Linked DNA regions of Homo sapiens: all the other regions are linked to region 1. The links come from fine-mapping of genetic effects on plasma protein levels. A gene starts in region 1. Each other region holds a variant in brackets. All regions are shown on one strand. Distances are between the middles of the regions.

Region 1 (5,091 bases):
GTGCCTATAATCTCAGCTACTCAGGAGGCTGAGGCAGGAGAATCGCTTGAACTTGGGAGTCGCAGGTTGCAGTGAGCTGAGATCGTGACGCTGCACTCCAGCCTGGGTGACAGGGCGAGACTCTATGTCAAAAAAAAAAAAAAAAGAAAACCTATAGCATAGGTGGGAGAAATGGGGGTAAACATGGAAGGATGGGATCATGGGATCAAGGCTTCTTGAGCTTTTTATATTCCTTTTACTTTTTAACTATTTGAATGTATTATCTAAAGTTTTTAAGAAAATAAACAGGAAATAAAAGTTAAGTGAACATGAAAATGTTCAGAACCAGCTCCCTACACACACAAGAGAGTTAAAGGAGATCTCTAGACCCCTTCATATCTAGACTTTAATGAACTAATAAATTGTTAATGTTTTATAAAGCTGGTCTCAGTAGCAATTCTAGAAATGAGCAGAAAACAAAGTGGTAAAAACAAAACATCGCTGGGCACGGTGGCTCATGCCTGTAATCCCAGCATTTTGAGAGGCCGAGGCAGGTAGATCACCTGAGGTCAGAAGTTCGAGACCAGCCTGACCAATATGGTGAAACCCTGTCTCTACTAAAAATACAAAAATTAGCCGGGCATGGTGGTGTGCGCTCTTAGTCCCAGCTACTTGGGAGGCTGAGACAGGAGAATTGCTTGAACACAGGAGGCGGAGTTTGCAGTGAGCCGAGATCGCGCCACTGCACTCCAGCCTGGGCGACAGAGCAAGACTCTGTCTCAAAACAAAAACAAAAACAAAACAAAACAAAACACAGAAACTGAGGGCTGATGCTTTTAAGAGCCTTGACCAAGTTCATGCTGCTAATAAAAATAACCCCAGACCCCATATTTAATCTATTCTACCTTATGCTTGAATATGGTCATTTGCTGGTTATTAGTTATGTGGGAAGACAAACATTAAATTAATAAAACATAATTTATAGTGGAAAAAATCTGTCACTTAGGGGGCTTATGCTCTCATTCTAAATCACCAATCATGTGCCTTTCGGCAAATCAATTTTCTGAAGTCTCAGATTCCTTGTCTATAAAATGAGAAATTGGCCGGGCGCGGTGGCTATGCCTGTAAACCCAGCACTTTGGGAGGCCGAGGCGGGTGGATCGCCTGAGGTCGGGAGTTCAAGAACAGCCTGACCAACATGGAGAAACCCCGTCTCTACTAAAAATACAAAATTATCCGGGGTGGTGGCACATGCCTGTAATCCCAGCTACTCAGGAGGCTGAGGCAGGAGAATCACTTGAACCCGGGAGGCAGAGGTTGCAGTGAGCCGAGATCATGCCATTGCACTCCAGCCTGGACAAAAAGAGCGAAACTCCATCTCAAAAAAATAAATAAATAAATAAAAATAAAATAAAATAAAATGAGAAATTGATTATGATCTCTTGAGTAACTGCCACTCTGCAATGCTATGGGAAGTACACACATTGAACAAGTTGCATATTTATATTAAATGCCATTTGTTTATATTGAACAAATTTGGTATTTATACCCAATGCATTTAATGGCATAAATGTGAATGACAAAGAAACTCAGGAAGGCAAGACATAGAGGAAGGCCACTGGCTTTTCAGAAACCACTCAGCCTGTGAGCTCACTTCCCTTTTATAAAAAAAAGCTTTTGCTTTTAAGGTGTCCAGATAAAGGTCACACTCCCAGAGCTGAGGCTACGTGAGTCTAAGCTGTTACCTCAGTTATGGGAGTGTGGCTGGAACTCAACACTTTCTGATCATTCATGGCCAAAGCCTCTTGGGGTAGGGGAGAGGGGGCACCTTGTATGCATGAGATGAAACAGGATACCAAGATCCCCTTAATTCTACTCAGAGTAGAGGAAAGGAACTGTTGCCAAAAGGAACATGTTTTTTCTAAATTGAAGAGTTGGAAGTTTGAAGGTCAAAGTCAGAATATTAGAACAGAGAGCCATGCATGTATTATCTAATACAATTTTCTCATTTTATAAATTATATAAATGAGGAAACTGAGACTCAGCAAGGTTATAGGATACAACCTAATCTGTGTTAGAAGAAGGATGAGAGTGAGGCTTATGCTGGGAGTTGCTATGGTCTGTAAATGTGAGGATAAGGAACATGCCATTCACTGTTGTGTTCCACTTCCTAGTCCAGTGCCTGGTGCAAAGTAGGGGCTTCATAAACTTTGGTCACAGGCCTGATGAAGGGACTGATTTGAGTGAATGAATCCATGGATGATGCATCTGTACTTTGTGTTCCCCGCTAGTCAGATGGACTCGGACATGCTCCATTTCAGGTGTATCTCATCTGAGACATTATTAGAGGGTTCTCTTTATGTGCCATGACTGAGTAGCGTTTTCTTCCACTGAAGTATTGCTTCCTCTTTGTTGATATCACAGGACAGACATCAGAACACTTACAGGATGTGTGTAGTGTGGCATGACAGAGAACTTTGGTTTCCTTTAATGTGACTGTAGACCTGGCAGTGTTACTATAAGAATCACTGGCAATCAGACACCCGGGTGTGCTGAGCTAGCACTCAGTGGGGGCGGCTACTGCTCATGTGATTGTGGAGTAGACAGTTGGAAGAAGTACCCAGTCCATTTGGAGAGTTAAAACTGTGCCTAACAGAGGTGTCCTCTGACTTTTCTTCTGCAAGCTCCATGTTTTCACATCTTCCCTTTGACTGTGTCCTGCTGCTGCTGCTGCTACTACTTACAAGTAAGTCTCGGCATGGATATTTACAATGACATAATGGTGCTGTACAGAGGACAAGGGAGAGATACAAGGATGGCCATTGTAATGTTGTTTGTAATAGCAAAAGCTTGGAAGCAACCTAAATGTCCGTCGATGAGGGAGTGGGTAAATAAATGTGATATAATCATGATACAAACAGTGAGTCTGACAAAACATACTGGTATAGAATGTCTCAAAATTATAATGTTATTAAAGAAAAAAAGTTGCAGAATAATGCATATATTAGGCTTCTATTTGTGTGTGTGCATTGTCGGGGAGCAGGAATATGTGGACATTTCTTAATGTATAAGCTCTAGGAAAAGGAACCAGGGAATGGTAAAGAGTTGGGAGAGTAAGGCATATTTTTCTTTTCTTTTCTTTCCTTTTTTTCTTTTTCTTTTCTTTCTTTTTCTTTTTTTCAATTGAGATGGAGTCTCACTCTATTGCCCAGGCTGGAGTGCAGTGGTGGCACCATTTTGGCTCACTGCAATCTCCGCCTCCCAGGTTCAAGTGATTCTCCTGCCTTAGGCACCGGAGTAGCTGGGATCACAGGCGTGCACCACCACACCCAGCTAATGTTTTTAATTTTTAGTAGAGACAGGGTTTTACCATGTTGGTCAGGCTGGTCTCAAACTCATGGCCTCAAGTAATCTGCCCATCTCAGCCTCCCAAAGTGCTGGGATTACAGGCGTGACCCACCGTGTGCCCGGCCACTTTTTCATACACCTTTGATAGTGTTTGAATGTTTTTACTGTAGTTGAGTCATATGAAAACAAAGGGGACATAAAAAATCAAAAGAAAATATATAATGAATGTTTTATCATATATAAAATATATATAGTTTTTTTTTAATGGAATTAACTTTGTCATTTGAGGAAAATGAGGAGACAAGTCTCAATCATTTTAGGAGATTTGTTTGCCAAAGTTAAGGAGGCACCTGAGAGACAGGTCTATGACTTTCTCAGAAGATGATTTTGAGGGCTCCAGATTTAAAGGGGACAAGGTGGGATATTGAGAAGCACTCAGTTTTCACATAAAAAAGGGGGGGGGGCAGAGGAAAAATATGGGGAATCTGCATTTTACATTAGATAACACAGACAAAATGGGGTAGGGAAACAATCAGATAACGCATTTGTGTCTGGCCAGGGTGACCGCACCGGTAAAGATGAGCTATCAATCTGCATTGCACAGCTGACCAGGAATTTCCTTGTGGGCAAAATATGGGGGAGGTATGCAGCCTTTCATCCTGTAGCCATCTTATTCAGGAATCAAAAAGAGGAGGCAGGTTTCTGTGACCCAGTTCCCAGCTTGACTTTTCCCTTTGACTGAATGAGTTTGGGGTCCCAAAATTTAATTTCTTTTCACAACTTTAAACCTTAAAACAACTCCATGAGTAGTTTCAAATACACAAGATCCTTATTTAACCAAGGGTTTGTATTTACTGTGCACTTGCTGCTTAAAAAGAGAAGTATGTTAGGAGAGCCTCCCTTTGTTGATGAACAAGCAAGTAGCCCAGATGGGCGGGCCGTTTCCTGGCTGACCATGACTAATTTTCTGATTGTCTGTTTCCATCAGCCCTGTTCTCCCGTGTTCACAGAATTGGGCCACAATTCTCTCCTAGGGCAGTGTTTCTGAAAGTGAGGTTCTGAGACCAGCCACTTCAGCAACACTTGAGAACTTGTTAGAAATAAAAGTTCTCAGGCTCTACCACAGGCCAACTGAGTCAGGAACTCTAGCAGTTGAGCCCAGCAATCTGTGTTTTCGCAAGGCTTCCCAGTGATTCTGATGGCCTTCACATCTGAGAAGCATTGTCACAGCGAATCATCCTCCAAACAGGACTGCAGCAGTAGCTTCCTCTTTATTCTGTAAGACATGGCTTGCAGTTTTCCTGAAATGGAGTAACCTCACTCACCGCTTGAGTCTTGGCTCTCCTTCTCTCTCTATGCAGGGTCCTCAGAAGTGGAATACAGAGCGGAGGTCGGTCAGAATGCCTATCTGCCCTGCTTCTACACCCCAGCCGCCCCAGGGAACCTCGTGCCCGTCTGCTGGGGCAAAGGAGCCTGTCCTGTGTTTGAATGTGGCAACGTGGTGCTCAGGACTGATGAAAGGGATGTGAATTATTGGACATCCAGATACTGGCTAAATGGGGATTTCCGCAAAGGAGATGTGTCCCTGACCATAGAGAATGTGACTCTAGCAGACAGTGGGATCTACTGCTGCCGGATCCAAATCCCAGGCATAATGAATGATGAAAAATTTAACCTGAAGTTGGTCATCAAACCAGGTGAGTGGACATTTGCATGCCATCTTTATGAATAAGATTTATCTGTGGATCATATTAAAGGTACTGA
Region 2 (5,091 bases), 990 kb after region 1:
TGTGGTAACACATCCCATAAGTGATGGTATCTTTTCAAGATAGAAAAGATCTTTCCTTTAAGAGACAAAGTAAAGAGAAGAAGGTCAGGGAAAGGGGGAGGAGAAAGGCTGCAAATATGGATAAATATCTTTAAATGTTCACATTTGTCTTAGAAAATAATAAAGTCACAAACTCATACCTTAGCAGTCCTAAACTTTTTGAATCCTGGACATAAATTTCAGGGCAACATTGGGATTAAGAAAATCCCCTCAGGCCACCACAAAAGGGACGGTTGTCTCAGCCTTCACACAGGTTCCAGTATAACCTTCTTCAAATCCCTGAGGATGGAGGTTTCTTCCAAGTCTACAAAATCAACAGAGAAAGACAATGTCCATAAAGAAAAACAAAAACAAGACAGAGTGATATTAAATTAAAGGCCATTTGGTTTGGAGAGACTAAACAAAAGATACTTTAGATTCTGTTTGTCATAAAATTGCAGAATCCCTGAATGGATTCAGTCTTGACTGAATTAAAGAATCATACCAAAAAAAAATTTCATAGTATATCAAGGCTGGAAGGTATTTTAGGACTTAACAAATCAAATTTGCTCATTTAACTTACAGGGAAACTGAGGATGGGAGAGCAAAAGCGATTTTCCATGATAATTCATTGTCTGTGGCACAGTTCAATCCGTGTGTCAAGCAAATCTTTAGTATACAAAAACAATGTGTTTAACACTGGTCTATCATCAAAGCAAGACAAGGAGACCGTGCATCACTCCACCTTGAAATACCTCCCTCTCTTGACTTCTAAGGTACCAATCTTACTGCGACCACTGGCCACTCCATCTTGGCTACCTCTATTGCATCTTTTCAACCTCCCAATTTCCAACATAAGGAGATCTTAGGGCTCAGTCCTGAGCCTCTTCTCTATACACACTTTCTCACCAGGTACATCTTCCAGGTCCACAGCTTGAGATACCATTTATACTCTGACAACTCTGAGATTTGTCTCCAGGCCCAGATATTTCCCCGAACTCTAAACTCAATCAACTGACTCTTCAACAACTCTACTTGGGCATGTCAGATATAAGATGACCCAACTGAGGTCATGACTTAGTCATCAGCACCACCAGCTTCCACCTGGAAAATACTAAAGCCCTCCTTCTTCTAAGTTTATGCCTTCTCAGTCAATGGCAATTTTATTCACCCAGTTGGTCAGGCCTAAACCCTCCAAGTAAACCTTGATTCCTGTCTTGCCTATATACCTCACATTGTCCATTTCATCAGCACATTCTGGTGGCACTATCTTCAGAATAAATCCAGCAGCTGACCTTTTTTTTTTTTTTTTTTTTTTTTTTTTTTTTTTTTTTTTTACCACATCTTTTACTACCATGCTGGTGCAAGACATCATTAAAGATCTACAAGGTTGCACAGCAGGCTCTCTCAGACTAGGGCTGGTACTCTCCACCAGACCCATGTAAGAGAATGACACTCCCCTGCTCAAAACCTTCCACCTCACTCAGACTCAAAGTTAAAGTTGTTGCAATGGCCATAAAGATCCTGCTTGATATTTGATGCATCTCTCTTACCACCGTCCTCATCTTCCACTCTTTTCCCCCTCATTTATTCCTCTCTAGCCATGCTGCTCCTCTAACACACCTCTGATTCTATTAGGAGCCTTTGAACTCATCATTCCCTCTACCTGGGAAACTTTTCTCCTCACTGTTTCACGTCTTTGCTCAAATGTTACCTTTCCAGTGAGGACCCTTGTAAAATTACCCTGTTTAAAATTGTAAACTCATACCACATATCTCATCCCTCTTTCTCTAGATTTAAAAGTCTTTTTGATGTATTACATGTCTACCTGTTTATTATCTGTCATCCCCCAATAAAATGTAAACTCCATGCATGCAAGAAATTCTATCTCGGGTATTCTGCTGTGTCTCCAGCACTTCACTTCACTGATAGCCTTGCACAGAAGTGGAGCTCGATAAATATTTTTTGAATGAATGAATAAGCAGACAGTAAGGTTAAGTAAACCTCATGGCCACTCAGATGATAAGTGGCTGAGCCTGGTTTGAACCAAAAGCATTCCATCTCCAGTATTTTTGACAACTATGGAATACTGACTAGATGAATGTCTTCTAGTGTTGGGCTTAGGAAAAGGATTTGTATAGTCTGGAGTGTGATGCAAAAGATGAATGTTAGTTGTATTTGGGAAGCTAGCAAACAAAAGCCCCAAAACTATTTCTAGGAGATACTCTAAAGAGTATGTGTGGCATGTATTGGGATGACTCTGCTTACAGGCTAATACTGAAATCTCATTGTTACTTTCATCATGCTGTTTTCAGATTTTCTGCCTTTGCTTCCATGCCATTATTTCTTGTCATTCCCTCAACTCTCAGCCCCTGCTTTACTATAAAAAGTATGAAGTAAAGGAATCCAGGGTTAGACAACAAAAAAGGGAAGAGATGCATTTAGGGAAAAGGTATTGGGCAGTCATCAAAGGACTTTAGATCTAAATCTAATTTGGTCACCAATTTGTCATTTGCCTTTAGGGTTGTCCCTTCCTTTCCCTGGGGTACCCCTCATTTTTATTTTGTTACCCCTCATTGCGGTAACATAAATACCTTTGAAGATCTTCAGCTCCCAAAAATGATCATTTTCTTTTTTTAACTGATAAAAGGCTCCCTTATCCTCAGTAGTCTAAAAGTGGTTAGGAAATATGGTGCAATGTTTAAGAACTAGGCTTTGGGGTTTACTACTGCGGTTCAGGTTCCGGTTCCACCACTGTGGAACCCTGGCCAAGATAATCAACTTCTCTAAGTATCATATTTCTTTTCTATAAAAGAGAGATGATGAAAATACCTATCCCTCTAGGATGTTTATGCAAAAGAAATGAAGTCATAGGTAAATCATTCATTACTGTACATAATGTTAGTGCTCAATAAACTTTTACTGTTCTTTATTTTTAAAGTTTTTACTGCTGCAGGCTTATATTCTGCATGACATTTCATAAATGTATCTACCTTCATCTTAGTTCCCACTGGATTCTGAATCTTTCCATCTTTTATCATATGACATTGCTTTTGTAGCCCTTAATGA[C/G]TTTGGGCAACTTTGTCTGGACCATCTCCAGGATCAGTTGTATGCAGCTACCCCAGCTGCCCCCACATTCCTGGGCAGATGGCGGAACATTGTAACATGAGAAAGTCATGTTTTCTGATTCATTTATTGTCTGCTTTCTCGTACCCGGCAATTTGAGGATGATCTTGGCCTCGGTTCTGGAATGTCAAGGCACAGTCTACAATTATTCCTGCATTCTGAAGCCAAGAGACACAACATTGGAAGCAAACAATGCTGTAATTCAGCACAATGATAGATGGAGTTATTAAAGAAATTGTGCTGACTGCTTTGATAATTCTAGTCTCAAGTCTATCCAAATGCATCTTTCTTTCTTCTTTTCTTAACTGATATTAAGAAACTGTCTATGTTCAGGTAGTAATGACATAAAAATATGTCACCTACCTTTCAGGTTTAGTTACATCCCAACCTAATAAATAGTTACAATGCTTCAGAGAAAAGGTACTTACAATCCATTCTAAGTCATCCAAGGACATGATCCAAAGCACATTTACAAAGCAAATGTTTATGAAATATATAATCTTTGCCATGCACTTTGTTAAAGACTGGGGATATGGTAGAGGATAATAGTGACTTTATTCCTACCTTCATTAAGCCTTTGTTCTAGCAGTTTTTCTTTATCTTTTGTAATTTCCTAACGTTGCCCAGATATGAGTAGACATGACAAATTCCTACAAATTTGTTGATTATCTCAAGTAGTGATATAGCGTGTGCTGACATAAATATCTCAATTTCTGCTTGATAGAGAGAGACAATTCTATAATTCTTGGTTTTCTTGGGAACAACACTCATTTCCTTACTTTGCTCCTCACCTCCCACCCCTACACACCTCTTTCTGCTTTATTTCCCTCCTTCAACAAAGAAACAAAAAAGTATTCACCAAATTCCACTACCCATTAACAAGATGCCACATGGCACAGTAAAGGACACTAGGTCCAGAGGGCACAGCTTCAGAAATTAGCTTTTTCGAAATCCTTGGAAATAATAAAGGGATTAATGCTATTATATGGTAAAATAAAATGAGAAAGTATATACTAGGAATAATGTGAAAGAAAATAATGTCAAGAAAGAACAACATATGTCTTAAATCACCAGTGTCTGCATGGGAGAGTGCTAATCATAGAGGTAGGTGGCATCTCTGCCTGTCAGGCGGCCTTGAACGCTTCAGGGAATCTGTCATTTTTCAAAAGGTATCAATTAGTGGTTGCTCTGATGGCAGAGTGTGAACCACACCTCTCTAATGGTTAGGTTGTGTTAAAAATGATTCCTGTGAGCATAAAGCACACACAGACACGGGTTTCACAGATACCCTGGCACCAAGACAGACTCCCAAGAGAGGTGGGCATCCCGAGAAGGCAAAACCAGGGAGAGTGGGAGCAGCAGAAGGTATTAGCAACTCTAAGTGGGTCTTAAGATTTTTGAGCAGAAGTGTGCTGGGGGAAAGGATGAACTATGGATCCAAATGTATCTAATGACGAATTTAAATTTAAAACTATGCCAACAGATTTGGGTCCTACTGGGAATTAAAGAAGCATTGCTGTAAAGATTTACCTCTTAAGAAGTGTGATCGTGGAGATACCATATAGGTATACACACCTACACACAGCATTCCTGTTGCCAACAATGCTTCCCAATATGTGTATTACTCTATTTGCATAGAAGGAAATTGAGTTTGGAGACATTAAGTAATCTGATTGAAATCACATAACTAGGAAGTGACAAGTCGGGATTCAAACTCAGAACTGACCCTGGAGCATATTGACATTCAGCAAACATGCTGAAAATCACCATTGCTTCTTTCCTAGGTTTTATTTCTGATTAAACCTAGTTCTGACACTCAGAAATGACACAACTTAAAATCCAAAGGAATATCTCAGTCTCCTAATAGTCTAACTGAAAACTGGCCCAGCTCAGTCTCTGCTGAGAATAGTAAAGGCACACAAATAGAAGAAGGTACATTTCCTCAGA
Region 3 (5,000 bases), 540 kb after region 1:
GGAGTTTGAGGTTACAGTGAGCTATGGTCAGGCCACTGTACTCCAGACTGGGTGATAGAGTGAGACCCCCCATCTCTAAAAAAATTAATAAAAAATAACAAGAAGAGATCCCTTCATAGAATGTGTATCTAGCTGACTCTCTGGTATGATTCAGGATGCATAAGAAGGCACCTTGACCAAAAAGGTGTCTGACGGTTCCATAGTCAATGCTGTTCTTTACCTGTGAGCCTTCCAGTCTGAGAGGAGGGATGAATTTCACCAGCTGCCATAGAGAACTAGGCTTGGGGAGAATGGAGAAAGGCTAAGTAACTGCTGATTAAAGTTAGGACATGAAACACTAAGTCCATGTGGGGTCCTAAATCAGGTTCACCTGGGTGGGGCAGTCATGAAGGGCAGGCAAAAATGAGGGTATTCAAACAAAATATTTCATGACCGGAGGCAAAGTAGTTGCAACTTTGTGTCCACGTGATTCTCAGATTTACAGAAAAGTTAAGCAGTAATCTTCAGGTCATGCAGAACCTGACCTGGATCCCAGGCTCATTATCCAAATCCAAGGCTGAGACCTTCATACTCTAAGACTGCTGAGTCTGTAAAGCTCTTAAGAAGTACAGTATGTGCTTCCAATTTTTTTATTGGGAAAAGAAATGACCATGTATTGTTTTTATGATCATAAAAAGTCATGAATAAACAATATGTTCATAATCATAAATATCATTAATATAAAATACAAAAATATTCATAAAAACATGACCATTATTGAAGAAGCATTGAAAAATACAGGTAATATGTACATTTCTTAATTATTTTTGTGTACCCTAAATTTCTTTCTTGGCTGGTCAAAATTTCTAATTTTGTGGACAGGTCAAAAGAGAGACAAGAGGAGTGATTTTGTAGTCGTCACTAATCCTTTGAGGAAGGTCAATTCTCACAGGAAAAGCACATATATTCTCCACTCTCCTCACTTAACTAGCTAATGTCTACATTATATTAGTTTGGTTGGAAAGGGGTGATGTCAAAAGAGGAAATTTTTTGAAGCAACCTTTGATTGCTTCAATTAGTATGTGTCTATCTGTCCCACAAAGAGAATATCTCCTTTCACACTCTTTGAAAAGTAATGGCTATATGATCAGATACTTTGGCTTATGGGTGCTTCATTCAATTGTCTACTTAAGAAATATGGCCAGAATTGATAAAAGACTTCAGGTTGGAGAGATCAGGTCATGTTTTGATTGACTCTTTTGCTCCAAGCCCACAGCAATGTTAGGCTAACAACAACAACAACAAATGGAAACCCGGTAAGTTAAAATGAGGCTAAAAATTGGGTAATTCTTCACACCCACTAGAATAATTATAATAGAAAAAAAACAGAAAATAACATATATTGGCAAGAATGTAGAGAAACTGGAACCCTCATACACTGCTGGTGGGAATGTAAAAGGGTGCGACTGCTATGAAAAACAGCTTGTCAGTTCCTCAATAAGTTAAGCGTGGAATTCCCATATTACTCAGCAACTCTACTCCTAAGTATATACCAGAAAGAATTGGAAACAGATATTCAAACAAAAACTTGTACACAAATGCTCATAGTAGCACTATTCATAATAATCAAAGGGCGGAAACAATACAAATGCCCAATAATAGATTAATGAATAAGCAAAATGTGATATATCCATACTGTGGAATATTATTCCCCTGCAAAAATGAGGTATGATACATGCTACAGCATGGATGAACCTTGCAAACATTACACTAAGTCAAAGGAACTATACACAAAAGCCACATACTATATGATACTATTTATCTGAAATATCCAGAGTAGGCAATTCCACAAGAAAGTAGATTAGCAGTTGCCAGGAGCTGGAGAAAGAGATAAAAGTGATTGCTGAATGGATATGGCGTTTCTGTTTGGGGTAATAAAAAGCATCATGGAACTAGATGATGGTGATGGTTGTGCAACATTATAAATGTACTCGATGCCACTGAATTATACACTTCAGTTAACATGGTAAATTTTATATCATGTGTATTTTACCACAGTAAAACAGTTTTGGGGGATTATCATCTTTGTGGACCAGAAGCAGAAATACTAACTACCATGAAGGCTGTAGCCAAAGGCTTGCTGGCATAAGGATCTAGAAGCAGGCCACGGAGACTGTGATTGTGTGCTTAGCTCAAGTGAATTAGAGGGGACCTTAAGAGTTCTCAAAGAGATGAGACAGCAGTGAAGCTCACTGCTGCAAGGTTTATACATTCAGGGGGAGAGAGAGGAAAGGGTGCTATAGAGGTTACTGGACAGTTAAAGCAGACTGATCCCTATATCATATCTAAGAGAGAGAATATAAATACTTAATAAGCCAGTAGAACATAAAGAGAGGGAATAAAAAAGAAACTGCCAGAAAGAAAGACCAAAAAAAATATGTTTAAAAAGGAGAAAAGAAGGGCCAGGCACAGTGGCTCACATCCTGTCATCCCAGCACTTTGGGAGGCCCAGGCAGGCGGATCACTTGAGGTCAGGAGTTAAAGACCAGCCTGGCCAACATCATGAAACCCCATCTCTACTAAAAATACAATAATTAGCTGGGTGCGATAGCACACACCTGTAATCCCAGCTACTCAGGAGGCTGTGGCAGGAGAATCACTTGAACCCTGGAGGCAGAGTGGCAGTGAGCTGAGATTGAGCCACTGCACTCCAGGCTGGGCGACAGAGCAAGGCTCTGTCTCAACAAAAACAAAATGAAACAAAAAACAAAAAAGATGAAAAGAAAGAGAATGGTAGAGAAGAAATACAAACCAAGATAGTAGGAATAGAAAATATCCATAACATGTACAAAATTGCAAGTAAATACTACTTATAAAAGAGATATTTAAAGCAAAACAATATAGAAAGGCTAGAAATAAAGATATGGCAAAAGACACCCTAGGCAAAGTCTTACTAAGAGAAAGCTGGGGAACACCACCCACTGGGGCCTATCAGAGGGTG[G/A]AGGGTGGGAGGAAGGAAAGGATCAGGAAAGATAACTCATGGATACTATTAATAGGTTTAATACCTGGGTGATGAAATAACCTGTACAATAAACCCTCATGACATACATTTACCTATGTAACAAATCTGCACATGCTGTGCATGTACCCCTGAACTTAAAAGTTAAAAAGAAAGCTGGGTATCAAAATTAGTATTAGACAAAACAGTATTTAAGGCAAAAAGCATTCATGTACTCCACAGAGACTGCATATAAAAACAACAAAATATGACTGGAAGCTATAAATCATGACTAGGTATGTATCTATCAATGTAGCTTAAAACACATTAATTAAAAGTTGTCAGAAGTATGAAGGAAATTTAGCAAATGCTAGCATTAAATTTTAACAAAAATCTATTAGAAAATGATAGATTCTGCTGACCAAATAATAGCAAGAATGTGGACACCCTGAATGCTCATATTTAACTAGTTTGAACTAATGGATGTGTAGAGCTCTGCACCCAAGAAATTGAGAATCTACGTTATTTTCAATTATACTAAACCATTTGCAAAAATAATGTCCTAGTTCACAAAGAAATGCCAAACAACAGTGCCACACAGAATACATTTTCTGACTTTAGTGCCATTAAATTATAAATCAAATTAAAAAGATAATTAAAAATGAACATATCTTGGAAATGTAAACATAGCTGTTTTAGTCCATATTGATTTTCCTGCTTCTACTCTTGCCCTCCTAAATTCTATTATCCTCAGAGCAGTCAGGTAATCCTTTTCAAATTCAACACAGATTATGTCACTCTCATGGGGGAAAAAAATCCTTCAATGGCTTTTTGTCACAGCTAGGCTTAAATTCAAACTCCTAACTACAAGATCCTACATGATCCGGTCTGCTACTACCTCCTCAATATTTTTCTTTCTTACTGGGTTTCTCCATATTATTACTACTCCAGCAGGATTGGCCTCTTTCTGTTCTTCAAACAATCCACATACCTTCCTGCCTACAGGAATTTGTACTTCTTTTTCTCTGTGCCTGGAAGTGCCTCCCTCTGTCCTCCATATCCACCTGGTTGCCTTGACCTCCTTGCCTAACACAGTAGCCTCTTTACTCTCCATCCTCTTACTCTTGCTCTCTCTTTCCACATTTCACTTAGCATGGCTTAGAATTTTATTATAAGTCTGATTGTCTATTTTTTTTTTTTTTGAGACAGGGTCTCAAAAAATCAATATGCACTCTGTCGCCCAGGCTGGAGTGCAGTGGGGCGATCTTGGCTCACTGCAACCTCTGCCTCCGAAGTTCAAGCGATTCTCCTGCCTCAGTCTCCTGAGTAGTTGGGAATACAGGTGCATGCCACCATGCCTGGCTAATTTTTGTATTTTTAGTAGAGACAGGGTTTCACCATGTTGGCCAGGCTGGTCTTGAACTCCTCACCTCAGGTGATCCGCCTGCCTCGGCCTCCCAAAGTGCTGGGATTACAGGCGTGTGCTACCATGCCCGGCTGATTGTCTATTTTTTTTTGTCTGTCTCCTCCTAGTATAATAAAAGATCAATGAGGCAGGGACTTTCTTTTGTTTACCCATGCATCCCCAGTGCATACAAGTGTCTCGTACATGGTGGGTACAAAAATATTTTTCACATGAATAAATATCAAAGCCAATATGAGTTCGCTGAGTTCGCTGACTGCCAGAAAGCTTTTAGACTGTGGTACCTAGAAGAGGGGAGGATGGTCCTGCTTTACCCACTACAGTAAGAGCACATCTGGAATACAATGTTCAGATCCAGACCCTACACTTTAAAGAAAGATATTGAAAAAGGTGAAAACCAAGATGGTGACTACTGTATGGCCATGAATTCTGTAATATTGGTGTACATACATAATAATGATTTCATGGTATTCTATTACAGTACGTGATATGATCAGTGATATTACATAATATGTTCACTCTGTTGTTCCTCATTAGCAATGCGTAGTTCAATGAACTGTGAGAAACTGAAACAAATGTGGTTCATTAATGCATTTCCCT
Region 4 (5,091 bases), 570 kb before region 1:
TAGCCAGGTGTGGAGGCGCATGCCTTTAATCCTAGCTACTCAGGAAGCTGAGGCACGAAAATCACTCGAACCTGGAAGGCGGAGGTTGCAGTGAGCCGAGATTGCGCCACTGCACTCCAGCCTAGGCGATAGAGTGAGACTCCATCTCAAAAAAAAAAAAAAAAGAAAAAGAAAAAGAAAAAAATGCCATGTAGGAAATGACATACAGATAAGCCTTGAAGGATGAAGAGAGAGCTAAAGGGACATTCCAGATGAAGGATCTTCGCAAATAAAGCTACAGTGTGGGGACTATCCAGGTGTAGTCTGGAGAGCAGGCAGAACAGGGAGTGGGGACCACTGGAAGGCTACTGGAGCCATCATGGTGAGAACCACTGGAAATGATGAGCCCTGGGCTCAGCACTTTACATCCTCATGCTAGACCTTGGAGGTAGGTTCCCTTACTACTACCACATTCTTTCAGATAAGGAAATGGAGGTCCAAGGAGGTGACAAGGTCACAAGACTGACTGGTGGTAGAAATAGCACTTAAGCCAGGTCCTTCTGATGCCTCCCCCTGACCTCCTTACCACTGGAATGCCAGGCAGTGGCATTACTGAGGCCTTCCATCTAAGGTACCATTGTCCCAGCACACTTGGCCCGGCATGTCACCTCAGACATGTGGGCACCGAGAGGTCAATCTTTGCCTTAAGCATGGAAGCTAGCTTGATCCCACCTTTTTGAGTTGAGCATCTACGAGACTATCAGGACCTCCTTCACCAAATAGAGGGGATGCATGGGCAAGGAATATGAGGATTGCTGAGGATTTATTATGCTCCGCTGTCTGCTGGTTTCTGTTTATTGTTCTACAGTTGTGTAGGTTGTAGTTACTAGTTCTCCTCGGGTCACACTGGTGTCATCGTGACCCTGGGGCAGATCCCTTTGCCAGAACTAGGGTGGTTGGCCTTTCTTGGGAGACTGGAGTTTAAACTGGTGGTGGTATCCCGAAGGTTAAGTACCGGTTGCTGTTCACGGATTCCTCTCTCCATCGCCCGAGCTTTCTGAGCTGCTCTGTCATGAACTTTTTTTTCAGGTGTTCATAGTAGTGGCTGATCTTTTTCTTGGTCTTCTCTAAAGCGCTCACCTTACAAAAAACAGAGGTGAGGTTAGGATCAAGATCCTAAAGAGGTGAGATTAGGATTACTTCGCAGCAGGGCAGACATCTGTGCTACTGATGGGGGAGTGGGAAAAGTGTCAGCTGGACCCTATGTACATTCCATATACTTTGACTCACAGAGAGCCTATTTCTCTATTTGTAAAAAGCATGCATTAAGCTAGATAACTCCAAGGACTGGCGCAGTGGCTCACACCTGTAATCCCAACACTCTGGGAGGCCAAGGAGGGTGGATCACTTGAAGTCAGGAGTTTGAGAGCAGCCTGGCCAACAAGGTGAAACCCTGTCTCCGCTGAAAATACAAAGATTAGCCAAGCATGGTGGTAGGCACCTGTAATCCCAGCTACTCGGGAGGCTGAGGCAGAAGAGTTGCTTGAACCCAGGAGGTGGAGGCTGCAGTAAGCCGAGACCGCACCACAGCACTATAGCCTGGACAACAGAGTGAGACTCTGTCTCACACTGAATTCTACTTATTTCTTCTATTGTATAACTTCTGTCCTGTCCCCCAAAAGGCGGTAAGGTGTGGGAAGCCAACATCCTATGTCTTATGCATTTACTCCAATGAGCTAGCTACAGGAGAGGATACTAAGAAAAACTGCCACAGGTCTTCACAGTAACTCCAATGTAGTCAGGATGTAAGACACATGCCCAAATATTTCTTTTTTTTTTTCTTTTTTGAGATGGAGTCTCGCACTGTCACCCAGGCTGGAGTGCAGTGGCGCGATCTCAGCTCACTGCAAGCTCTGCCTCCTGGGTTCACACCATTCTCCTGCCTCAGCCTCCCGAGTAGCTGGGACTACATGCGCCCGCCACCACACCTGGCTAATTTTTTGTATTTTTAGTAGAGACGGGGTTTCACCATGTTAGCCAGGATGGTCTCGATCTCCTGACCTCGTGATCCACCCGCTTCGGCCTCCCAAAGTGCTGAGATTACAGGCATGAACCACCGTGCCCGGCCCACATGCCCAAATATTTCTAAGAGAGAAAGTGATCCACTTCCAAAAGAAGCACAGAGTTCAAGGAAGGGAGATATCACGACAAATTTCACTTGGCTGGGCGCTGTGGCTCACATCTGTAATCCCAGCACTTTGGGGGGCCAAGGCAGGTGGCTCACTTGAGGCCAGGAGTTTGAGATCAGCCTGGCCAACATGGGGAAACCCCATCTCTACTCAAAATACAAAAAAAACCTAGCTGGGTGTGGTGGCATGTGCCTGTAATCCCAGCTACTCAGGAGGCTAAGGCACAAGAATCGCTTGAACCCAGGAGGCAGAGGTTGCATTGAGCCGAGATTATGCCACTGCACTTCAGCCTGGGTGACAGAGCGAGACTCTGTCTCAGAAAAGAAAAGAAAAGCTACCCAGAGAAGTTAGCATATAAACTGAGGCTAGGTTTTGAAGGATGGGAGGGTTTGGGGCATGTAGAAACAATGTGGT[G/A]GGTGGTGATCCTGGGAATGTACGTTTTTTAACAAGCCCTCCAGGGGATTCTGATAAGCACTAACATTATCTGAAGACCTAGCACAAGGTTAAGCAAAGGACTTCTTCATAAAGGCCAGTCAATATTGACATGATTACTTGACATGAGGAATTAAAGAGGGAGGGTGGGCACTAAATGTCATAGTTCAAGTCCGTGTTCTCCAAACCTGGCTGAGCATCAGAAGCATTTCAGTTGCTTGATAGAAACGTAGGCCCCAAGGATTCTTGCTTAATAGGGTTTGGATGGGGGCCAGCAATCTCCACTTTTGTCATGCACCTGAGATTATTCTGATCCAGCCCCATTACCAAGTCGCTGCTATTACCACCATTTTCTTTTTTTCTTTTTTTTTTGAGACAGGGTCTCACTCTATTGCCCAGGCTAGGGAGAGTGCAGTGGCACAATCTTGGTTAACTGCAACCTCCACATCTTGGGTTCAAGCGATTCTTGTGCCTCAGCCTTCCAAGTATCTGAGATTACAGGCTTGAGCCACCACACCAGGTTAATTTTTGTATTTTTAGTAGAGACAGGGTTTCACCATGTTGGCCAGGCTGGTCTCAAACTCCCGACCTCAAGTGAGGCACCTGCCTCAGCCTCCCAAAGTGCTGGGCTTACAGGTGTGAGCCACTGTGCCCAACCTTATTACCACCATTTTCTTTTCTTTTCTTTTCTTTTTTTTTTTTTTTGAGAGGGAGTTTCACTCTTGTTGCCCAGACTGGAGTGCAATTATGCGATATTGGCTCATCGCAACCTCGGCCTCCAGGGTTCAAGCAATTCTCCTGCCTCAGCCTCCCAAGTAGCTGGGATTACAGGCATGTGCCACCACACCTGGCTAGTTTTCTATTTTTAGTAGAGAGGGGTTTCTCCGTGTTGGTCAGGCTGGTCTCGAACTCCCAACCTCAGGTGATCCGCCCGCCTCGGCCTTCCAAAGTGCGTGAGCCACCACCCTGGCTTACCACCATTTTCTAGTACACCCCATGACAGTAGGCTTTTTGGCCTCTCTCAACTAGTGATTTTACCTTGAGCATGACTCTTACCAATCAGGGTTTCTCAACCTTGACACTACTGACATTTTGAGCTAGGCAGTGTGTGGTGGAGGGCTGTCCCATACACTGCGGGATATTCAGCAGTGTCCCTGGCCTCTACCTACTAAATACAGAAAGCCACAAAGGGCTGGGCATGGTGGAACATGCCTATAATGCCAGCACTTTGGGAAGCAGAGATGGGCAGATCACTTGAGCCCAGGAGTTTGAGGCCAGCCTGGGCAATATGGTGAAACCCCGTTTCTATTAAAAGTGCAAAACATTAGCTGCGCATGATGGCACGTGCCTGTAATCCTAGCAACCTGGGAGGCTGAGGTGGGAGGATTGCTTGAACTCAGGAGGTTGAGGCTACAGCAAGCTGTGATCATGCCACTGCCCTCCAGCCTGAGCAAAAGAGTGAGACCCTGTCTCAAAAAAAAAAAAAAAGAAAAAAAAAGGAAATTAAAAAAAGGGGATACAAAGATGATGAGAGAGAATGGAAGACATACCTGGTGGTAGTACAGCCCCTGGCTACTTTCCCCAAAAACATTGGCGACTCTGCCCTATCCATCCTTGATTATGTAAACCCAACTTCTCTATCTTGCTCGAACTAGTTCAAGTTCAGTTTATGTTACCTGCAACTGAGAGGATCTTAATAGATCCTATTTTACAAATGAGAAAGCAGAGTCTGGAGGAAGTGTAATTCACACAGGGTCACACAAAGCTGGCTTGCCCATCTATTTCCACTACACCACACCCATGGAAGTGTAGCAGAAAGAGAAATGCCCGGGTCCCTACTCTTCTTTTGGTGTTTGTGACCTTCAAGAGGATCTGGCACCATCTCTTAAGGATCTCCAATTGTTTTTAATGTTAGAATTTTGTGGGCCCATCCAGACTTGACCCTGGAACATGGAAGGAAGCTCAAAAGAGTCAAGAAGCAGGCAGCAGCTGTGCGTGGTGGCTCACTCCTGTAATCCCAGCACTTTGGGAGTCTGAGGTGGGTGGATCACCTGAGGTCAGGAGTTTGAGACCAGCCTGGCCAACATGGTGAAACCCCGTCTCTACTAATAAAACAAAAATTAGACGGGCGTAGTGGTGCATGCCTGTAATTCCAGCTACTTGGGAGGGTGAGGCAGGAGAATTGCTTAACCCGGGAGGTAGAGGTTGCAGTGAGTTGAGATAGCGCCACTGCACTCCAGCCTGGACAACAGGAATGAAATTCTGTCTCAAAAAAGAAAAGAAGGTGGCAGCAGCTCAACCCTGGGCACCCTGCTCTGCTTGAAAGAATGAGTGTGTTTCTGGAGTCCATCTTGTTCACTTGTCTCTTCCTAGCGCCCAACACAGTACCTGTCCCAAGCAGGCCCTAAGGACAGGTTTAATGAATCCATCAATCAGGGTCTATGGGAACAGTGGGGTGACAGCACTCAGGATTTCGAGTAAGCAGGTGAAA
Region 5 (5,079 bases), 780 kb after region 1:
TGAATCCAGAGTGTTTGGCTGGAAAACCTGTTCTCTCATTTCTTATATTAAATGCTTCTAGATATATGTGAATAATTGATTATAACAATGTGATTACTAATAAAAACAATATTTTTGTGATTGTATTAGCTAGAAGTTCTTAATATGGATATTAATTTTAAGACATATTATTGAATACCTATTGAGTGACTACTGTATTCCAGCCAGAGTGAAAGTTACTCTAAGTATAGGCATTTTGTCCCAGGTAATAAACCATCTTTGATATGTCTCTAAAACCTATAAATTTTTACAGCATCATGAAAAGCAGCTACAACAAATTAGGCACATCCTTCTATAGTGATTCAATAGTTTCATAAAATTAGAATTGATCCAGTAGATTCTCCCTTGACAATTGTGTTTGGCAAGAATCTTTAGCTATTACCTGCGCTCTCAAATGCTTGCAATGAAACCTGTGGTAGGAAAGGAAATGCTCATCTCGTTTTTGGTCATTTTACATATTTTTTAAATCAAAGTTTCTAGAAACAAGTATGATAAAAATAGCTAAACAGCATGCATTTTTCTAAGCACTTTGCATGCTTTCATGTAGATATGTATATATGTATGTACATCTATTGAGGAATAATTTACTTCTAGTAAAACAAACAGATATTAGCTACATAGCCCAATGAGTTTTACAAATCTGAACATCTTTGGGAACAATATTCAAACAGGAGAGGGAACATTTCTATCACCCGAGAAAATTCTCTTATTACTCCTCTTAATCAATTCCCTTCCCCAGAGATTGTGAGTATTCTGATATCTATCACATTTAATGTTTTCAGTCTTAGCTATAATCCGATGAGGTGGTTCTAATTTTGAGGTCTGGATTCTTGGCCACCATACTGTCCTCCTGCGACTCTGCTCAACAGAGACTTAGACCATCTCAACAGTGTTCTCTGAGAGAATGAAGCCACAACTTAATTATGCCCTAACTTCTCTCCTATGTGTCTAGAATATGCACCACCCTTGAGAGAACAGAGAACATGGTCACTCAAATAACCGTCTGCTTTCTTTGGTTCAGTTGAGAAACTCTAGAAAAATAGAGCAGACAAATGTAAACATGTACAGGTCAGATAGCGGGGTCAATGAATGAGGTAGGCATATGCCCTCTCAAAAGGACAGGAGCTGACCACAGGCCACCAGCCACTGTGCCCAAGAAATTACATAGGGAATGCCCATCTTCAGCTTTTTCTAGAAGATCAACATTATGATATCTTAAGATGTTTAAATATTTCATAAGTCAATTAAAACAAACAAACAAAAAAACACTTTGTGAACCAAAATGTACCTATAGTCCAAGCCTTTGGGTTGCCGGTTTATGACCTGCTGTTTGTATCAGCAGCCTGGTAACATCAGAGGGGTGGGGACGCAAACTTTTGAAGGTCTCAGCCAATGCTAGGAGTTAATCTTTCTCACTACCTGGTAAAAATTATGCTGTCCAGACACTGGCCTATTACCAATATTCCTGACCCCTGAGGGAAGCAGATAAGGACTTTGGTAAGCACACACTGAACAAATAACAAAGAGAAAAGAAACTTGCAAGGGTGAATGGAACCCAATAAAGAAAGAGCGAAAGGGCTAGAAAGATTATAGAATAAGAGAGAGGAGAGAAGTCAACCATAGGTAACGATAGGAATGAAAGGAACACAGCGTGGCTCTGTTCCCCGCTGTCCTTATCCTGGAACAATTTTCTTTCATTGAATACACAGTGCCAATATCACAACCCCAATGAGGGTTAGTACAAGATTTTGTCGAATGATTCGTTCGGAGAGAGGAGCTTACCCTGGTATTTATTTACTCTGAACTCAATGAATAGTTTCAGTGGCTGAATATGTCAACTCCAGCAAGTAACAGCAGGGTTTCCAGGCATTCACAATATATTATTTGGAAGTCAAGGTGCTCACAAGACAGTCTGATCCTATCACTCTGGCAAGGAAAAGTGGTCTGAGCAAGGAGGGAGTTTCTAATCCCTGGCAATATAGTTTTTATCAGGGAATTGTGCTTGCTCTAATAGGTGCCATTGCTTTATCAGTGAAAAAGAAGAATAAAGTGATTGCATCCATATCCTCCTACACATCCTGAGCTCCATTAATACAACCACCAACAAAGCTTTCTGAGCAAACCAATCTCACAGGATTTATATACTAAGTGAACCACGGTGACATGTTCCTCCCCAGTCCTACAGACCTGTCTGAGAGGCAGGTCAGAGGCTACAGCTTACATGGTTTCCTTTGTATGAGGCAGTTCACACTCTGCAATAGGAATTTGAAACAATAATGAAGACCTTTCTGTGTGGCAAGAAAAGTGAAACAAAGGGAAATGTGGAATTTCTAGAGAAATTTGGGCAACACAGGAAAAGTAACCCAGATAATTCAGAGTAAAACATCCTTTCCTTTGCTGATTGTTTGAACTCTTTGTTTTACCTTGCTCTACCTTTTTCACTCTTTGTTGATTTGCCTGGTGCTATCTCAGTTCATCTTAACTATATGTATTAATATATTTGACATATTTAAGTGCTTACTGTGTGCAAAAGACAATGCTAAGTGCATTATCTGTACAATCTCACAACACACTATTAGGCAGATACTTTTGTCTTGTCCATTTTAGAGATTAGGAAATTGGGACACATTTTGGAGATGATGTAACTTGCCTATGGCCACACAGCCAGGACCCCAGTCTTCGTTTGAGGCAGACCCTGAGCTCAGTTCACAATATAACCACTTTTCTTCCACAGCAAGATGATACCACCTTCCATTTTTTTCTTTCTTGCTGTGCTTCCTCTCCCTACAATCACCCTCTTCCTTTTCGGTTAACACATGTATGAAGTCCTCACCATGGAATGTGCATTGTTCAGATGACTAAGTTGAGCTCAAGGAGCCATAGTTTTTGTCAGGAGAAGGCTCACTGAAATATGTTCAAAGAAGAGTAAAGAAAGAGTGCAGGAAAAGATGGAGAAATGGGTGAAATGACTCAAGACACCCAGCCTTAAGGGAGACAGACTAAGAGTTATTCTTAAAGAAAAGGAAGAGCCTCAGGATTACAAAAATCATAGGTTGTGAAAACAGAAAACAA[T/G]TCAGAGGTATCAGATCATCTTACAGATAGGAAACCTGAGATCTGAAGATGAATGGAGCCAGGACCTGACCTAAGATTTCTGACCACCTCTACCTTTCCTCCCTCTCTCAACCCCACTTCTGCCCCCAGTACCAGCACGTTCGTCAGACGTGGCTTAGGAAACTATCCAAGATGCTTGAAACCAGAAGTGTTTCTGACTTCAGATTTTTTTGGATTTTTGGAATATTTGCATTATACTTACCATTCAGCATTCCAAATCTGAAAATCCGAAATCAGAAACGTTCCAATAAATAATTCCTTTGAGCATCATGTCAGTGCTCAAAAAGTTTCAAATTTTGAAACATTTCAGAGTTCAGATTTTTGGATTTGGGAAGCTCAACACATGTACAACCAACGATGTAGTATGTGCCCTTGGAGATTTTTTTTTTTTTTTTTTTTTTTTGAGACTGAATCTTGCTCTGTCGCCCAGGCTGGAGTGCAGTGGCGCCATCTTGGCTCACTGCAAGCTCCACCTTCCGGGTTCACGCCATTCTCCTGCATCAGCCTCCCGAGTAGCTGGGACTACGGGCGCCCACCACCATGTCCGGCTAATTTTTGGTATTTTTAGTATAGATGGGATTTCACCGTGTTAGCCAGGATGGTCTCCATCTCCTGACCTCGTGATCCACCTGCCTCGGCCTCCCAAAGTGCTGGGATTACAGGCGTGAGCCACCGTGCCTGGCCTGCAGATTTTTTAAAATAAAAAAGTAAAATTAAAGAAATGTCTTCATCAGGATAAGGCATATATAACACTTTGTTCTCTTTTTCAAAAGTTTATGTTAATAATAAAATGACCATGAGCAGGGCCTTGAACAAGCTTCGCTCCCGGGAATTACTCACCATCTCCACCTGGTCCCTTCACTCAACACTCCCGGCAGTAATGTCTCTGCAAGGAACAAATATGGGTTAAAAATAAGGTCTGAAGAGCCTGCCCCCTCCTTGCCTAGGAAATCTGAACCCTCAGGCAATGCCATTCTTACAAAATGTGCTTTCTGATTACTTCCAGAAGGCAGGGCAGGCTGACCATGCAGTCTCCTGTGGTGAAGTGGCTAAAACAATTCTCTTCACCAAGGCCACTGAGTATCTGCACACCTCCAGTCCAACAAATCAGTGCCTGGTGGCTTTGGCTATTTCTAATACATGTGTTTCATTCCTGTGCCAAGGGCTCCTCCCTCCACCCTCACTGCCCAGTTTGTGTTGTGGCCATTCCTCTCCCTTCACTGCCTCCACCTCTGTCCTGGATTTCTTCCTCTGTATCCTTCCCCCTTCCGCTGCTTACTTTTTCTCTTCAGATGTCAAGAGAGCTTGACTTCTCCCTACTTTACTTCTAAAAAAGAGAGAAACTATAGAGTTTCTACCAAGTTTCAAGCACTGCTCTTTATAATCCTGCAACCTGGAGTTGCTATTTCACGCCTCTTCTGCTCAATGCTTGACGCACGCTAAATATAGAGGAGTATGACACCCGAGCTCATGGAAGGCTCCCTTTTTCATTGGCAGTGGGCTTGACTACGGTTCATGCCAGTTCCTAATCTGTCTTGGCATTTTTCTCACTCATTAGGCACTTTAGAGAAAAAAATAAGGTCACAGTCCATCCTGACTTCTAACTACACCCCCTTCCTTTCCTCAAGCCCTGCAGTCCCCAAACCCTCCCCACACCACCCCAACACGAAGATGAAACTAATAAAGAAAATGTTCATGAACCATCTCTTAAAGATATCCTGCTGCCAGTCCTGTCCCAGGTCCCTCCTCCAAGTACAACACTTGGAAGAAAAAAGAAAATCGCTGGCTGAAAATCCTGACCTTCTACCAACAGGACAGAATGTGTGCCTTCTCATTCTAGGTCTTATGCAGAGGAAGCAATGAGAAATGCTGGCTCTCCACTTTTCTTTCAGCATTAACTTCAGGCTCTTCTATTAGCTACTTGTTTAA
Region 6 (5,091 bases), 950 kb after region 1:
TTTTTTTTTTTTTTTTGAGACAGAGTCTCGCTCTGTCGCCCAGGCTGGAGTGCAGTGGCATGATCTCGGCTCACTGCAAGCTCCACCTCCTGGGTTCACACCATTCTCCTGCCTCAGCCTCCCGAGTAGCTGGGACTACAGGCGCGTGCCACCACGCCTGGCTAATTTTTTGTATTTTTTTTAGTAGAGACGGGGTTTCATCATGTTAGCCAGGATGGTCTCGATCTCCTGACCTTGTGATCCACCCGCCTCGGCCTCCCAAAGTGCTGGGATTACAGGCGTGAGCCACCGCGCCCGGCCGAAAATGATTTCTTTTGATAATAATATTGGTAGATTCCAAAACCAGAAATCAGTTCGTGTCATTTCTGAGTGCCTGTTGAGTGATGCCTGGTCATAGCTTTGAGGTAATGGAGTAAATTTCAGCATAAGGAGTCAGTGGAATGTACTACCTCAGGACAGAAAAGAAATAAAAGAAGCCATTATCTAGCACCATGTAAAGTTTCAGGTCAAACAGGTCTGGTTTACTAGGTGGAGAAAGCACAGTAAGCACAGCTGAGGACTGACTATGCCTCCCTCTATGAGGAAATTATGTGTGGTTAATGGTGGTGTCTGTTAACGGACTTTGAGACAAAGTACATCAGAGTCATGCCAAGCTAGTAGATTCCTCCATGGCTCTGATGGGCTCCTACGGAAACATGGACTCTGACAGGGTTCCTCAAAACTTGACTCTCACTCCTACATGTCTCACTCCTCCATTTGCATACACAAGTGGTGAGTTGATATGAATATCTTAACTATTTAGTATCTTCCTCAATCCTTAGTACTTTAGTATTTTCTTATAATCCCTCATTTGGGAAAGTGGAATCCAGCATTTTCCAAATGGAAGAAAGTTTATCATGGATCAATGAGAGAAAGGAGAAAAAACAATAGTGAAATGTTTGGCTATTGAATTTAAAAGTCTCTGCAATGCACCTTAAGAAAGAAAAGATGTAGAGAGAAGCTGGGCTACATTGCCATCCCAATACCCACCAGGCAAGCAGAGAAAAGCAAGCCTGTTAGCTGGAGGAGAAGGAGGGAAGTTAGATAAACACCAAGATGATTAGATGACATGAAGATAAATGGCTGCCTTGCCTCATCCCCCAGGGTTAGTGTGTGGGCTATTATAGAACCCATTCAAGTTAAGGATTTTAGAGTCAAGGGGAATTATGGTTCATACCCTACATGTAATTCAGGAGGCAGAATGTTTTAGCTGTGCCCTAAGCCAGTGTTTTGATGTGCATGTGAATTGCTTTCTGCAGATCTAGAGGAACATGAGGGAACAGTAAACAGCTTCCCATCTTCTGAGCAGGGAGAAGGCATCAGTTGAGAGAACAGGAGGTTCAAATAGTCCTCAAGGACAAAACGATGGGGGAATGGTGATGAGTACAATGCACCATCTCTTCAGAAACCATAGTAGGACATGAGAGGATGATTGCACATCTCAGCTGAGACCAAAGAAAAAAGGGAGTCAAATCCAAGACTGACTGATTTATTCAGCCCTACCTGGTTCCCTGGTCCTTGACCACTTGCTCAATGGAGAGCTGCACACACTATTAAGACCTCACGCCACACTGCAGAACAACCTCCATCACACACACCTCAAAAGGGGTCTCTGGCTACCAAGTTTAACACCCTCATAACACAGAGTCTCTGACTCCTCCCTTCTAGACTCAGGTGCAACACTGCTTATTGAACATGGGAGGTAGCTTCCCCAACAGTAGCCTGGAGAGGTTGTTTGAAAATCTCAGAAGTGTAGACAAAATATTGACCAATGGAAGGAAGGAATCTGTGTTTATTTGCAAAACTGCAGCCAGTTTTGTAATTTAACTTTTTGTGCTTCCTTCCTTCCTTGGCTTACCTCTCTTTATCCACTCCACCCCCACCCCCACCACCCTGGGACTACAAACTCATTAGCAGGTAAATTCTGTCACACATTCTGTTTCCTAGAGAATCTAGGGTAAGGAACCCTGGCACTTGAAATTTACTCCAGAAAGGAATATGAGTGGGGGGAAATCAAAAGTTTGACCTGAAATTAACAATAAATGACTGCATGTGACTGAATTTAACAGTCAAAACTAGACTGGGAGGCTGATGGAACTGAGGCT[G/T]TAGAAAAAGAGAGTTACATTTTCATACATCTGACTTTGTGACTTTGGAATAAAACAGTTGCTATATTCAGAAACATTAAGAAGTTCACGCTTCTTAATTTAAACATATAATTATGATTCAAAATTAAGGAAGATCCAGGAAGTAGGAAGGAAAGATGAGGAAAATGTTCATGTCTACACTGCAAACATATAATAGTTCTCCCATCTCTTCTGTATCACTCATTTCTTGTTTTACAGTAGAATTAGAAAGTATAAGCAGTGACTAAGAAGTTAACATAGAAGAGCATGGGTTTAGGTGTCCAACATATATAGCCTTGGTTTTATTTCTGCAATTCACCAGCTTTGTGCCCTTGGGCAAGTTACTGAAGCTCTCAGTCTCTTCATCCATAAAACAGACAACAGACGATGCCCTTGGGATTTGCTCTAAGGGCAAACATATAGTTCTTAGTCCTGTGACTGGAAAGCGGTAAGCACTTAATTACTGTGAGCTATGATTACTATTATCAAGGTGTTTGGTTGAATGAAATTTGAGGAACTAACCTGTCAATGAGAATTTTCTCTGTGATATAAAAGTGAATGTTTACTACAGAGTTTGAAGCAAAAATAAAGCTTTTCTTGTTCTCCATCCTACATAAAAACTTTTCCATTCTCCCAAAAGTAAAATAGACGACAGGGTATCTTCAGGATAAAACAAAAATTCCCGATCTTTGATATGTTCGTGCATTGATTCCCTTAGTTTCAAAAATATTTATGATAGATATCTGGAAACAAAGCCATAGACACTTGTAAGTAAAAAGACACATGGTAAAGAAATGTATTATGCCAATATCTAAGCAGGCTATAAGGGTAATCCAGTCTGCTGTCTATTTTTGCAAATCAAGTTTTATTGGAACTCAACCACAGCCATTCATTTACGTATAGTCTATGGCTGCTCTTGCATATAAGGAGAAAGTTTTGTCCTGACAGAGGCCTTGTGCTACACAAAGGCTAAAATATTTACTATCTAGCTCTTTAGAGGAAAAATTTGCTGGCCTCTAATCTAAGAGAAGAAATTAAGGGAAGAGGCAAGAATAGGACAAACAAGTTGGAAGAAAAGACAGAAAATATCAAGTGAAGTAGCTTCAAACAATAAGCTACTATTACGTGATGATGGGCACACATGAAGAAGAGGCAAAAAAAAATCAGAAACTTAAATCAAGCACAATGTTAGCAAAGGCTAAAGGCGTAAATGCTATAGAGGGCTAAATATTGAAATCAAGAATATATGTGCAATTTCTTCCTCAAAATCTTAAAATAAAAATGCTTCCTCTTAGGAAATATAACTCAACAAAGCACTTATAATAAGAGATACCCTCTTATATGAACTGAATCCAGCAATAATTAGATTTAATTTGTTACAGTTGTTGATTTATATGATTCTGGACGCATCTTGAGACTATAAAGAATATTTTTAAATAAATGTGATTTTGTGGCATTTTCACATTATTACTTTTAATAAATGAATTGCAGGAATAAAATATAGAAAGTGAAGCTTTTTTAATAGAAAAACTCGGAAGACCAATTATTTAAGAATTTCAAATTAGTATATATAAGACTGATGCTGGAAGAGATCTTTGTGCTGATATATCTTAGTTAAAAATAAATTTCATTGCCTTCTAGTTTCATATTATAATCTCTTAATAATGTAGCTTAAGATGATGACATATTTCCTTTTCTGAGATAGTGTTATTTATTATGTAATTATTACAACTCATGGCAAAGCACTTGTGAAAAATATGTCTTAAAGATTTGAAAATATGTGTAAACTGTTTCAGACAGATTTCAGTTCGTGAATTATACTGACTGAAATATTAACTGAAAGCTAATTTACTAAAGAACACATTTCTTTGTTTAAGAACCCACAATTTGCTATTTTCTTTCAAACTCAAGTCTTCCATGGGACTTAAGAAAAATATGTCAGCTTTTCTTGATAATCAAAAACACTTTCCAAAAATCTACATATTTAACAATACAAGATTTGTTAAAGAAGGTATTCTCATGTAGCCATTAAAATTACGTTGGAATAATTCATGACAAGAAAAATGCTTACAATATATTAAATAAAAACTTTACAATGGATTTCAATTATGTAAGAAAAATATCTGTGTAAATATTTATAAAAATGCACAGTGATCACCTCTGAAATTGGGAAATTAATGATTCATTTTCCTGTAGATACTTTTCTATATTTCATGAATTTTATTTATCCAATGTTTATTCTAGCTGTAGTTAACAGAAGTAATAAATTCTACTAAATGTTTCATAAACAGTATTTAAATATCCAAAATTGGTTATTACAATCTGAAAAAAATACAGCCTCTTCTGAAGCCAAAGGTATGATAGGGTTTTTGTTTGTTTATTTGTTTTGTTTTGTTTTTTTTATGAGTGGTTCAGAGAAAGATAATATGTATCCTGGCTGAGACTCAAATTTCCAGATGCTAGATTTTTTTCATTTGCTTAACTCTAATTTCAAAGAATAGATAATTTAAAATTAATAATCATGTCTTTAAAGTTTAAATTATTCCAATTACTCAGTAAATATTCAGAACATAAAGTAAAATCTACGTAATTTTGTTCTTTAAGGAAGTTTATAGCTTTTACTTATGACTATATTCTGATGAATTACAACCACATATTTTTGCACACATAGCACTAGACATTTTTTAAGGCTCTTTGGTTATTTCATTTGACCTTCCAAATAATCTTGCAAAATAGCCAAGACAGATATTACCATTCCTATAATGGTGGAAATGAGGCTCAGAGTGCTGGTCACATACGCTAATAAAAGTTGAGGAATGAGATGGGAATTGCAAATCCCATTATTTTTCAAAGATAGCATGCTGCTTCTCAAAACAATGATGATAAGTCTTCTGCCTTCAAAGATGGTTAAAGAGAAAAAGTGTATCAC

Alleles and levels. Alleles are on the strand shown, and positions count from the first base shown. The strength of an association depends on the size of the effect and on how common the allele is.
For the plasma level of the protein whose gene starts at base 2,607 in region 1, G is the high allele of the variant in region 2 and C is the other (moderate association).
For the plasma level of the protein whose gene starts at base 2,607 in region 1, G is the high allele of the variant in region 3 and A is the other (moderate association).
With allele A in place of G in region 4, the plasma level of the protein whose gene starts at base 2,607 in region 1 is higher (moderate association).
With allele G in place of T in region 5, the plasma level of the protein whose gene starts at base 2,607 in region 1 is higher (moderate association).
For the plasma level of the protein whose gene starts at base 2,607 in region 1, G is the high allele of the variant in region 6 and T is the other (weak association).

The links. PIP is the chance, under the fine-mapping model, that this variant and not a neighbour inherited with it causes the effect. The UK Biobank Pharma Proteomics Project read protein levels with antibody pairs (Olink). The fine-mapping took linkage between variants from a reference panel, not from the people measured, so its PIPs are less certain.
Region 2: its variant is fine-mapped to the plasma level of the HAVCR2 protein (UK Biobank, PIP above 0.99).
Region 3: its variant is fine-mapped to the plasma level of the HAVCR2 protein (UK Biobank, PIP above 0.99).
Region 4: its variant is fine-mapped to the plasma level of the HAVCR2 protein (UK Biobank, PIP above 0.99).
Region 5: its variant is fine-mapped to the plasma level of the HAVCR2 protein (UK Biobank, PIP 0.92).
Region 6: its variant is fine-mapped to the plasma level of the HAVCR2 protein (UK Biobank, PIP above 0.99).

Annotation. Positions count from the first base shown.
Region 1 is chr5:157,106,560-157,111,650 of GRCh38, reverse strand. It overlaps HAVCR2 (hepatitis A virus cellular receptor 2), which reads left to right and starts at 2,607. Exons shown (of 7, transcript NM_032782.5): 1 at 2,607-2,725; 2 at 4,689-5,024. The coding sequence starts at 2,668. RefSeq lists an enhancer at 2,671-2,820.
Region 2 is chr5:156,119,108-156,124,198 of GRCh38, reverse strand. It overlaps a transcript of SGCD not described here. Among named protein-coding and RNA genes, the nearest start is that of SGCD, 210 kb to the left of the region's middle. The variant C/G (reference allele first, on the strand shown) is at 3,088.
Region 3 is chr5:156,568,786-156,573,785 of GRCh38, reverse strand. The region is part of intron 4 of SGCD (sarcoglycan delta); the gene reads right to left. Among named protein-coding and RNA genes, the nearest start is that of SGCD, 240 kb to the right of the region's middle. The variant G/A (reference allele first, on the strand shown) is at 2,981.
Region 4 is chr5:157,675,869-157,680,959 of GRCh38, reverse strand. C5orf52 (chromosome 5 open reading frame 52) reads right to left here. Exons shown (of 3, transcript NM_001145132.2): 3 at 802-1,119. The coding sequence ends at 961. Among named protein-coding and RNA genes, the nearest start is that of C5orf52, 6.9 kb to the right of the region's middle. The variant G/A (reference allele first, on the strand shown) is at 2,583.
Region 5 is chr5:156,328,491-156,333,569 of GRCh38, reverse strand. SGCD (sarcoglycan delta) reads right to left here. Exons shown (of 9, transcript NM_000337.6): 2 at 3,991-4,036. The coding sequence starts at 3,993. All of the region lies in intron 2 of LOC124901120 (a long non-coding RNA gene), which reads left to right. Among named protein-coding and RNA genes, the nearest start is that of SGCD, 3.9 kb to the right of the region's middle. The variant T/G (reference allele first, on the strand shown) is at 3,112.
Region 6 is chr5:156,158,948-156,164,038 of GRCh38, reverse strand. It overlaps a transcript of SGCD not described here. Among named protein-coding and RNA genes, the nearest start is that of SGCD, 170 kb to the left of the region's middle. The variant G/T (reference allele first, on the strand shown) is at 2,145.